Linked DNA regions of Homo sapiens: region 2 is linked to region 1. The links come from fine-mapping of genetic effects on gene expression. A gene starts in region 1. The other region holds a variant in brackets. All regions are shown on one strand. Distances are from middle to middle.

Region 1 (5,375 bases):
AAAAAGGGTCAGTGAGCCTGGCCCTTAGACCTTGGAAAACTTTGTAGTCTTTGACCACAATTCCATCTCTGGCACTCAGAAAAAATAATAATCCTAAATAATAAAAAGTTTTATGTTCAAAAATAATTATACAGAACCACACAAAAAAGATATCCAACTTCTGGGGGGGCAAATGTAACTACGGTAGGAATCATGATAGCTGACATTTATTAACCACTTATGATGTTCTAGGCACTGTGTTAAGAATTTGTCACCACCTATTTCATCAGACTCAAGAAGTGAAATAATTGCTAACATGTTATAACAAGTCATGGGTGGAGTCCAGATCTGAACCCAGTTCTGACAGCAAAGCCAACTGTCTTTAGCACCACAGTGTACTGTACTACAGAAACTGCACTGTACTACATAAAAAATGGCAACTGTGAAAACTACATAGCAATATGGGGAAAGATTATGATAAAGTATGCCTTGAATAAAGACTACAAAATTATACATAAAGAATGGCTGGGAGCGGTGGCTCACACCCGTAATCCCAGCACTTTGGGAGGCCGAGGCGGGCAGATCACCTGAGGTTGGGAGTCCGAGACCAGCCGGACCAACATGGAGAAACCCCATCTCTACTAAAAATACAAGATTAGCCGGGAGCAGTGGTACATGCCTGTAATCCCAGCTACTCGGGAGGCTGAAGCAGGAGAATCGCTTGAATCCGGGAGGCAGAGGTTGCGGTGAGCCGAGATCGCGCCATTGCACTCCAGCCTGGGCAACCAGAGTGAAACTCTGTCTCAAAAGAAAAAAGAAAAAAGAAAAAAAAAGAACAGTTACAAGCATGAACTCCCCCACCACCACCACCACACACACACACACACACAGAGGCTGGCTGGGCGTATCAGGCTGGGTGTAATCAGGAAAGAGTAACCTTACAGTAATTTGAACAGGAAAATAATAATATAAACATGTATTAATTATAATAGGGGACTGTAGTCCCCTACAGTTATAAGGAACTGCCTAGTAAAAAGAAAAAAGAATGCTAAATAATACAAGAATAGCAGATATAAGTAGCCACTACCTCAAGGACTGAGACAGAGCACCTAAGAAAAGGTCCTAGATCCCCTTAGACCAGGGCAAGTTGGTGCAGAAGAAGTTGTGTACCGCAATAGCCTAGCATTGAATACAAATGCTGTTTAGAAAAATATGGGGAACATGGAGGTTTCATCCATACCAACTGACTTTGGACCCAACATCACACAGTGCCTGGTACAGATACCCAAGTGTTTTCTACATATATGTCTGAACACCCCAGATAGGAGATATTCTTTTAGGGCAAGGGTTATGTTTCATCCTCCTCCTATAGCCAACCCTATACTTGGTATACATAATGAGTTCAACAACAATTTACTTTTGAACAGAATATATGAACTCTGAGGGAAGACTCCTATTAATCTGTGCCTTTTTTCCATTAATTTTTATTCTATTTTTTCTACTGTAAAAACAAAAATAATGCTTATTAAAGAAAATGCAAAGGTTAAACAAAAGGAGAAAAATATCAGCCATATTCCTGCTACCCAGAAATAATCACTGTTAGTACTTTGGTGCATTTTTTATACCAATAGTTTTCTTTTTTCTTTAAACATAGATGTACAGACATCGTATCCTCCATGCAATTTCATATCCTGAATTTTTTTACTTATCATAAAAAAAGCATTTCTCCAACTCCTCATCAGCTCTTTATTTAAGAATTAATGGTGAATTATTCTCTATAGAAAATGTTTACATTGATGTTGAAACTACCTCAAATGCTAACTGCACAATCTCTTTCTGAAGATTTTAGGTAGTTTACTTAACCACTTCCCTTTTGGAACTCTGAGGTTCTATTTTATTTTTCCTATTATAAATAATTCCATAATGAACATCACTGTACTTCATATTATCTCTGATAGGCCTATTTCCGACGATGGCTGTCCCACGTGTGAAATTACCAGTTCAGATGCTACAAATGCATTTATGGCCACTGAGCAAAACTTAAGATCACCAGCCACCTGCTTCTAAACATGGAAACTGGTAGCTTTCCCTTTTACAACAGGACACAAACCCGAAGCTCCTTCTATGCCCTCTAGTACTAACACTTGCTTACCTATCACCTAACACAGCCTCCCCTCTTCCCTGCCCATAAAACGCTGCCCAGCCCTACATAATTACACGACCCTGGGCTGGTCCCATCGCCTTTCGGACCTCATCAGTCCCCATGCTGCGCAGTTGGAGAGTGGCATGACTGAAGTGCTGGACCAGAGCATATCCTACGGCCCCTCCTGGAGGGGAGGTGGTGCCCTGGGCGCCGAAACCAAGCGCAGGGTCTTGGCAGGGCGCAGTCGCTTCGCCGGTAGACCCGGGGACTCAAAGCAATAGAACTACAGCTTGGAGCTCCAGGGAGAGCCCAAGACACCGCAGCCCTTCCCCATCTAGATTCCGAGATTGGCCCCTGGGCCCCACTCCCAGCCTTCACTTCATCTCCCCTGAAGCCCTTTCTCTTGCCCGCGGCTCACCTAGTCCACCCTCCAGACCTCATTCGGACTTCCCATTCTTCCCAGTGGAGGGGTCGCCCAAACCCCTCGGGGTCTCCTTTCCCCCTCTCCTTTTCTTTCCGCGCCGTCCAAGCCAGTCCCACTCTCCACACTCTGGAAGGTATCGGCTACCCCCAATATTGCGACTGCCTTGCAAGATCCCCCCATCACCTCCTCCGCATGTCTTTCCACGTATCTGTATGGGGTTGTCCCTCTGTCTTTCCCGCCATGACTGGCTTTCCGTCCTATTTCACCCACCCTTCCTCCCACGGATCCGCGAGTCCTCTGGCCCTGGCCCTTTCATTTTATTAGTCCGCCCCTCTCCTGATAGCACCTCTATCCTCTTTAGGTCCCCTCATATGCCCCTCCTCCAAGTCTGTCCCTCAGCGTCCCCGTCCGCGTCTCTACTGTCTGTCCCCGAATGTGTTCCTCTGTTCCTGGAGTCTGGCCCTCGGTCCAGCCAGGCCCCTGCTCACCATCCCTCCCCCGGGCCGGAGAGTCTGCAGCCCGGTTCCCGGTTCTCGCTGGGGTAACTCTTTCCTCTTCCACTTTCTCTACTTTGAACCCATCCCAGCAGAGTCCAGGAAGTAGCCTGGCGCCGGAGACTGGCGGCGGCGACGCCCAATGGGACGCGCCAGCGGCGGCGGCAGCCCCGCCCAGAGAGCAAATGAGACCAATGGTCGCGTGAAGGCGGGACTTCCGCTGTCCCGCGAAGGGCGGGGGGAGCGAACTGTTGTGGTGCGGAGCGTTCGGCGGGCGGCGGCCGGGCGGCCCAGGGGCTGCCGCGGGACTCGGGGCGCAGCCGAGTGGCTGCAGGGGTGGAGTGGGCCGGACGAGCCGCGGGGCCCGGGTGCCGCGGGTTCGAGGCCGGGCCCCGCGCGAGGAGGCCGCGCCACCCCGGGGGAGCTGCCCGGCAGCGAGTTTGCCCCGCTGCCGAAAGAAGGCGGGAGCCGGCAGGGGCCTTCGAAACCCCCTGGCAACCCAGGCCCGGAGTCCTTGGGGAGCGGCTGTTTCCTGGGACGCCCTCCCGGACACCCCCGCTGCAGGGTTACGGTTCTGGGCCCCCGGCAGAAGGCTCCTCCGGGTGACCCCCGGCGGGGCCCTGCGAGCCGCGGGAGCCGACCCCGGGGCCTCGAGCCGGGAGGAAGGGGGCTTCCGGAGGCGGAGGGCCGGGGGCCGAGGGAGCCGGGCCTCTCGGACGCGGGGCAGGGCAGCGCCCGGGCTGGAGACGGACTCTGGGACCCTCGGCTGCGGGGGTCTCAGCGACCTGCCCCGCGGCAAGCGCGGCCGCGGAGTGGCCTACCGGGGACCCTCCCCCAGAGGGACCGGCCCGGGGCGGGGAGATGAACGGCTTCAGCACGGAGGAGGACAGCCGCGAAGGGCCCCCCGCCGCCCCAGCTGCCGCCGCCCCGGGCTACGGCCAGAGCTGCTGCCTCATCGAGGACGGCGAGCGCTGCGTCCGGCCCGCGGGCAACGCCTCCTTCAGCAAGAGGGTCCAGAAGAGCATCTCGCAGAAGAAACTCAAGCTGGACATCGACAAGAGCGTGAGTCCGCCCCCGCTCGCGTCTGGGCCCCGGCGCCCCCAGCTCTCCGTCCGCTGCCCTGGGCTCCAGTCGGGACTCCCCGGGCACTCCCCGCCGTGGGCCTCGCCGCCCCGGCTCTGCAGAACTGAGTTGGACTCCGCATTTCAAAGGCCGCTCCAGCGCTGACATGCTCTGACTGTGATTCTACCCAGATCCGGGAGGATGGGGGCGGGGGCTTCAGGACTCCTGCTGCCTGGAAAGATTGGACAGCAGTTTCCAACTTGTTTTATTGGTTTAGACTTTAGAGCAGGGAGAGGTGGGTTAGTTTTGTTGGCCCTTGAAGGAGCAAGAATCGGAGCGGGGAGTGATGAAGATACCCGGCTCTTTTCCAACTTCTCTCTCCTTCTAGGAACCCTGTTATTCCTTCAGACAGAGAAAGGTGGCAGTTACTTCCCTGGCTCCCGCATCCTCGGTATCAGCAGAGGGTCACCGAGCTAGCTGCTTCGCAGGCAGCTGTGGGAATGGGTTTTTCTAGGATGTGGCAGAAATAAGGCCAAGGCCAGGTCTTGAGAAATGGCTCTTGCAGTCGATGTGACTGGAGGGGGGAAGAAAAGAAATCAATTTTCTTAGTGGTAGTTTCTTTTGAAATAAGGGGGTGGATATTTAAATTTAAATCGGATTGCCCTGCTCTTTGTGGCTTATTATAGGAAACTCCTCCCGTGTGACTTCACCACTTCTAGTTAACAATTCTGAAGCTGTGCCTATTGTCAACCAATTAAGAACTTTTTAGTTTGACATCTGTTGCTACAAGCCTTAAGTGATTGCTTCATGATTAGGAATTGGAAATGAGTTAAGGGGATATTTAATATTCAGGTAGACTAGCTAAGAGCTTAGGTGGTTAACATCCATTCTCTTCTAGAATCAGAATTTCTCCACAGTTGGAGGAAATCAGAGACTGCTTGTTAAACTGAAAGGGAGTGCACGTTTCCCCTCTGATTTTAGGGTTGAAACAGGCCCAGAGATAGGAAGTGAGGGTGTCAGGTACACACAGCACCTAAGAGGCTGGTTAATTTCTTAAAGATATTATCTAATTTACTTCCAAGCCCTATACATAAGTCTTCATTAAGTCTCTAATAAATAAAAAATCTCCCCTGTCCTTTTTCTTTTCTTTTTTTTTTCTTTTTCTTTTTTTTTTTTTTTTTTTTTTTTGAGACGGAGTCTCACTCTGTCACCCAGGCTGGAGTGCAGTGGCAAGATCTCGACTCACTGCAACCTCCGCCTCCCGGGTTGAAGC
Region 2 (5,375 bases), 47 kb after region 1:
ATATTTTTGTCTTTCCTACATTTTCCAAACTTATTGCCATATTGTATTTTGCTTTTTATGATGATAATTTCTATAATTAAAAAATAAATGTATACTCAAACTAAATATACAACTTAAAATATAACTCCTTTGAAAGGAGACAGTCAGTGAGGAAAAGTGCCTAGGACAAGGAAATAAGTGCTGGCAACAACAGCATTTATTTGGTAATAAATATTCAATAAATGTTTGTTGAATGAATGCGTTAAGTAATTTACAGGGATCATCTCATTCAATTCTCAAAAGTACTTCAGGAGAAAGTGCAGTTATTACCCCCATTTTGCAGGTAAAGTAACTGAGGCACAGAGAATTTAAATAACTTGTTCAAGCTTCCCCAGCTGGTAGGCGACAGAGCTGCAACTTGAACCCACTGAGTCTCCAAACACAGTTACAGAAGGATGGAAAAAGAGGGAGAGAGAAAAGAAGGAAAGACACGAGAAAAAATGGTTTCATCGGTGAGAACAGTTAGACCAGTGAAATGAATATCTGAGATGCTTCACCTAGGGGACTAGTCAAAGATGCAGAATCTTGGCCCCATCTCACACCTAATGAATCAGAATCTGCATTTTTAAAAACATCCCAAGGGACTCATATGCACATTCAAGTTTGAGAAGCCAAGACAGTTAATATGAAATCTGTTTGGGAAAAATAATTTACACATACACATGCACACACACACACACATATATAATATATATATATTTACTTGTATTTGTCTTGGCTGGTACTACCTTGCTAAGAAATTGGGGCATAGCTGTATAAATCAGTGTTCTTCAAAGTGCAAGTGATGGCTGTTTTGTGGATTGTGAAAACATCTTAATGAATTGCAATCAGAAACTAAAAAAATAAATAAAAATTATCAGAGTGCATCTTATGAAGAAAGGGTGTGTTATTGCATGAAACTTTTATTTCAAGTGTGTGTGGGGGTGGTGAGTGTACTGGCTCTTGAAGTAAAATGTCTACCTCCTGTCCCCTTCGTCAGAAAAGTTGTGACTGGCCTTCACACCATGGCCAAAGGCAGCCATGGGTAGTTTATTTTTTGTTTGTTTTTTGTTTTTGTTTTTGTTTTTGTTTTTTGAGGCAAAGTCTCTCTCTGTTGCCCAGGCTGAAGTGCAATGGCCCAATCTCGGCTCACTGCAACCCCCACCTCCCAGGTTCAAGCGATTCTCCTGCTTCAGCCTTCTGAGTAGCTGGGATTACAGGCGCCTGCCACCACACTTGGCTATTTTTGTTTTTTCAGTAGAGACGGGTTGTCACCGTGTTAGCCAGGCTGGTCTCGAACTCCTGACCTCAGATGATGATCTGACCACCTCGGCCTCCCAAAGTGCTGGGATTATAGGCATGAGCCATGAGATTCTTTTTTTTTTTTTTTTTTTTGAGACGGAGTCTCGCTCTGTCGCCCAGGCTGGAGTGCAGTGGCACGATCTTGGCTCACTGCAAGCTCTGCCTCCTGGGTTCACACCATTCTCCTGCCTCAGCCTCCCGAGTAGCTGGGACTACAGGTACCCGCCACCACGCCCAGCTAATTATTTGTATTTTCAGTAGAGACAGGGTTTCACTGTGTTAGCCAGGATGGTCTCGATCTCATGACCTCGTGATCTGCCCACCTCGGCCTCCCAAAGTGCTGGGATTACAGGCGTTAGCCACCACGCCCGGCCAAGCCATGAGATTCTGAGCTGACATTTAGAAGTGTGGTGGATCTCCTTCCTATATCTGATAGATTTAGAAACTCTGAATGAAATCAGAATTGGGTGGGGAAGGAGGGTGAATGTCTCAGAAATTATCCATCCCAGCCACTTCCCTGTCCAGGTGCAGAAACACAGTCCCAGAGAGGAGAGGGATTTGCCCAAGGGCACACAGCAAAACTGGGACTTTGGAGAGAGGAGTGTAACAATGTCAAGTCTTTCATTCCTTTTTTGTCTCAACCATGAAAGTCTTGGGGGCTGGGGGGACCTGGCCTGGAGGCCAGGCAGCCAGGGGGACATGACTCTGGAATGTGTTGGGGAAACAAGATGCCTTCTCCTCCAGACCTGACAAGCCAACAGGACTAGGTGTGGCAAGAAAGGGCTCTGGTTATCTGCCTCCCCCCTCTGTTTCGTTTGGTCTGTCAACTCCAGCAACAAAGTGCCCCAAACGTGTGAG[G/C]CTTGATAAAGATGGGAAGGTAAGAGGGTGAAGGTAGTGGGACAACAGGGACCAGAGCTTGAGAGGTGTCCCAGGACCTCTGTCTCTGCTTTCTCCAAGAGTCTGGGAAGCCAGCAGGATACCCCTCTCTCCTTCACAGCCTCCCCCTACTCTGTGATTGTGGCCAAAACCCTTAACTTCTCTGGGTGGTTGTGTCTTCTTCATTTCAAGATGGGACAGGATAAACCCTTAATACTTAGATCCTAAATCAGAGGATTTTGACTTTGAAAAAGAAGTCTACCATCTTATTCTTCCCTTTGTATTATTTTTTTAATTCAAAAAGTAATATGGGCTGGGCCTGGTGGCTCATGTCTGTAATCCTAGCACTTTGTGAGGCCGAGGCAGGAGAATGGCTTGGGCCCAGGAGTTAGAGACCAGCCTGGGCAACATAGGGAGGCCTCATCTTTACAAATAATAATAATAATTAAAAAAAAAAAAAAGCTGGATGTGGTGGTGTGCCCTTGTAGTCCCAGGTACTTGGGAGGCTGAGGTGAAAGGATTGCTTGAGCCCAGGAGCTTGAGTCTGCAGTGAGCTGGGACCGCACCACTGCACTCCAGCCTGGGTAACAGAGTGAGATTCTATCTCAAAAAAATTAAAAAAAAAAAAAAAAAAAAAGTAATGCGAGAACCTGAGAAAGAAGAAACCATCCATAATCTTTCTAACCCCAAATAACTGTTACCATTAGGATGTGTATGTTGCCAAAATGGGGTCAGAGTCTATTCTGTTTTCCTTTTCTCACTTAGCAATGGGTGGCCGGCTTTTTTTTTTCAGGGGTGGGGGTGTCAATGAATATTATTTACTTCATATTACGTGGCTATTTGATAATTATTGATTATTGTTAGGTTTTCTAAAGGTGTGATAATGACATTGTACCTATGCTTTTTTAAAAGAGTCCTTTTAGAGACGGCGTCACAGGTGGTGGAGCGCTGGGCGATCAGGCTGCCTAACTGGCCGGCTTGGGCGTCTGGGCGGTGAAGGTGGGACTGCCTGTTCTGGGCAGCAAGTTCCCCTCTCCAGCTGCCCGCCATTCATAACATGTCCGCCAGAACCCGGGAAGCACAGGCAGGGCTGGCTTAGAGAAGACGCGGTCCCCAGCGCTTGGGCCACGGACGTCCCAGCCCGGTCCTCTGTCGCAGGAGAACCGCTGGGCCGAGCCGCTGGGAGAAGCAGGCCAGAGCCTTCCAGAGCCTCCGCCCGAGGACCTGACAAAGAGCGCCTCCTCCTCCGCAGCCGGGTTCCCGGTGGCCTTACCAGCCTCCAGCAGCAGAAGCAACGCCTGATCGAGTCCCTCCGGAACTCACACTCCAGTATAGCTAAAATACAGAAAGATGTGGAATACAGATTGCCATTCACCATAAACAACCTGACAATTAACATATATTGCTTCCTCCACAATTTCCTCAGGAAAAACCAGTGATCAGTGTTTTTCCACCAATACGACATCACTTAATGGATAAACAAGGAGTGTATGTTACTTCTCCATTAGCAAACAATTTTACAATGCACCCAGATCTTGGAAAAATTATTCAGAGTCTGTTGGATGAGTTTTGGAAGAATCCTCCAGTTTTAGCTCCTACTGCAACAGCATTTCCTTACCTATACAGTAACCCAAGTGGGATGCCGCTTTATGCTTCTCAATGTTTTCCATTTCTTCCTCCATATCCCCCAGAAGAAACAAAGAGGAGTTATCACTTCTTTATCTGTTGCTAATACTGTTTCTTCTTCAACAACAAGTCATACCACAGCCAAGCCCGTCGCTCCTTCATTTGGTGTCCTTTCAAATCTGCCATTACCCATTTCCACAACAGATGCTTCAATATTGACAAGCCAAAATGGTTTTGGTTACAAGATGCCAGATGTCTCTGATGCATTTCCAGAACTCTCAGAACTAAGCGTGTCACGACTCACAGATATGAATGAACAAGAGGAGGTATTACTAGAACAGTTTCTGACTTTGTCTCAACTAAAACAAATTATTACTGACAAAGATGACTTAGTAAAAAGTATTGAGGAACTAGCAAGAAAAAAATATCCTTTTGGAGCCCAGCTTGGGAGCCAAAAGGCAAACCGTTTTAGATAAGTATGAATTACTTAAACAAATGAAGTCTGCTTTCAAAAAGAAGATGCAAAGGCAGTGTGAACTTAGTGAGAGCTGTAGTGCAAGTGCCCTACAGGCAACATTGAAAGTAGCTGCACATGAAGCTGGGGAAGAACCTGATAATATTGTGGAAGACTTTGTGGAGGGAAAAATGGAAATAAATGATTTTCTCAGTAGCTTCATGGAAAAGAGAACAATTTGCCACTGTAGAAGAGCCAAGGAAGAGAAACTTCAGCAGGCAATAGCAATGCATAGCCAATTTCATGCTCCACTATAGACATACACTGCCAAATGGAAGAAATTAAAGCCGCTTCCTCAATATTAGGCAACAAAGTTTCTAAGAGTGGGCAGCTACAAGAATGGCGTGTAGTGAGTTATGTTATAAAAATGTGAAAGCCATTACCACTATATCCTAAGTATTTATCATTTTAGCAAGGTATTCCCTGTTACATACAGTATATGGCAGAAAATGAATATACATTCCTTGTACTTAATTTGGGAACTGCTCAGCAGGTAATGCTCAAATTTTATATTCTAAAAGAATTACACTTGCTTTATTTTTTACATTAACAGAGTACTTTTATATCACAGTTCTTTAGTATATTCTTTTTTTTGAGACGGAGCCCAGGCTGGAGTGCAGTGGCACTATCTCAGCTTATCACAGCCTCCGCCTCCCAGGTTCAAGCTATTCTCCTGCCTCAACCTCCCGCATAGCTGGGATTACAGGCATGTGCCAACACGCCTGGCTAATTTTGTATTTTTAGTAAAGAGGGGGTGTCTCCATGTTGGTCAGGCTGGTCTCGAACTCCTGACCTCAGGCGATCCACCCGCCTTGGCCTCCCAAAGAGCTGGGATTACAGGCGTGAGCCACCGTGCCCAGTCACATATTCTATTTTTAAATATGATGAACACAATTACATTTTTTCATTTATATATATATTGCCACACTCCCTCCAAATCTTTCATACTAGAGAGATCAGCAATGTTGCTTTCTTGCCCTTTCTCTTTACTTTGTTCTAATTTCAGCAAAATGTAATACAGTCTCCCATAAAAAATTTA

Evidence for each region. PIP is the estimated chance that this variant, and not a neighbour inherited with it, causes the effect. A credible set is the group of variants that fine-mapping cannot tell apart.
Region 2: its variant is the best candidate, but not a certain one, in a credible set for the expression of SAP30L in whole blood (INTERVAL, PIP 0.86).

The regions. Positions count from the first base shown.
Region 1 is chr5:154,442,704-154,448,078 of GRCh38, forward strand. SAP30L (SAP30 like) reads left to right here and starts at 3,294. Exons shown (of 4, transcript NM_024632.6): 1 at 3,294-4,102. The coding sequence starts at 3,902. It overlaps SAP30L-AS1 (SAP30L and GALNT10 antisense RNA 1), which reads right to left and starts at 3,119. Exons shown (of 3, transcript NR_037897.1): 1 at 3,035-3,119; 2 at 659-777. RefSeq lists enhancers at 2,918-3,037, 3,091-3,591 and silencers at 3,168-3,697, 3,828-3,937.
Region 2 is chr5:154,490,158-154,495,532 of GRCh38, forward strand. It overlaps the pseudogene LOC100128833 and the pseudogene LOC100271907. Among named protein-coding and RNA genes, the nearest start is that of HAND1, 15 kb to the left of the region's middle. The variant G/C (reference allele first, on the strand shown) is at 2,179.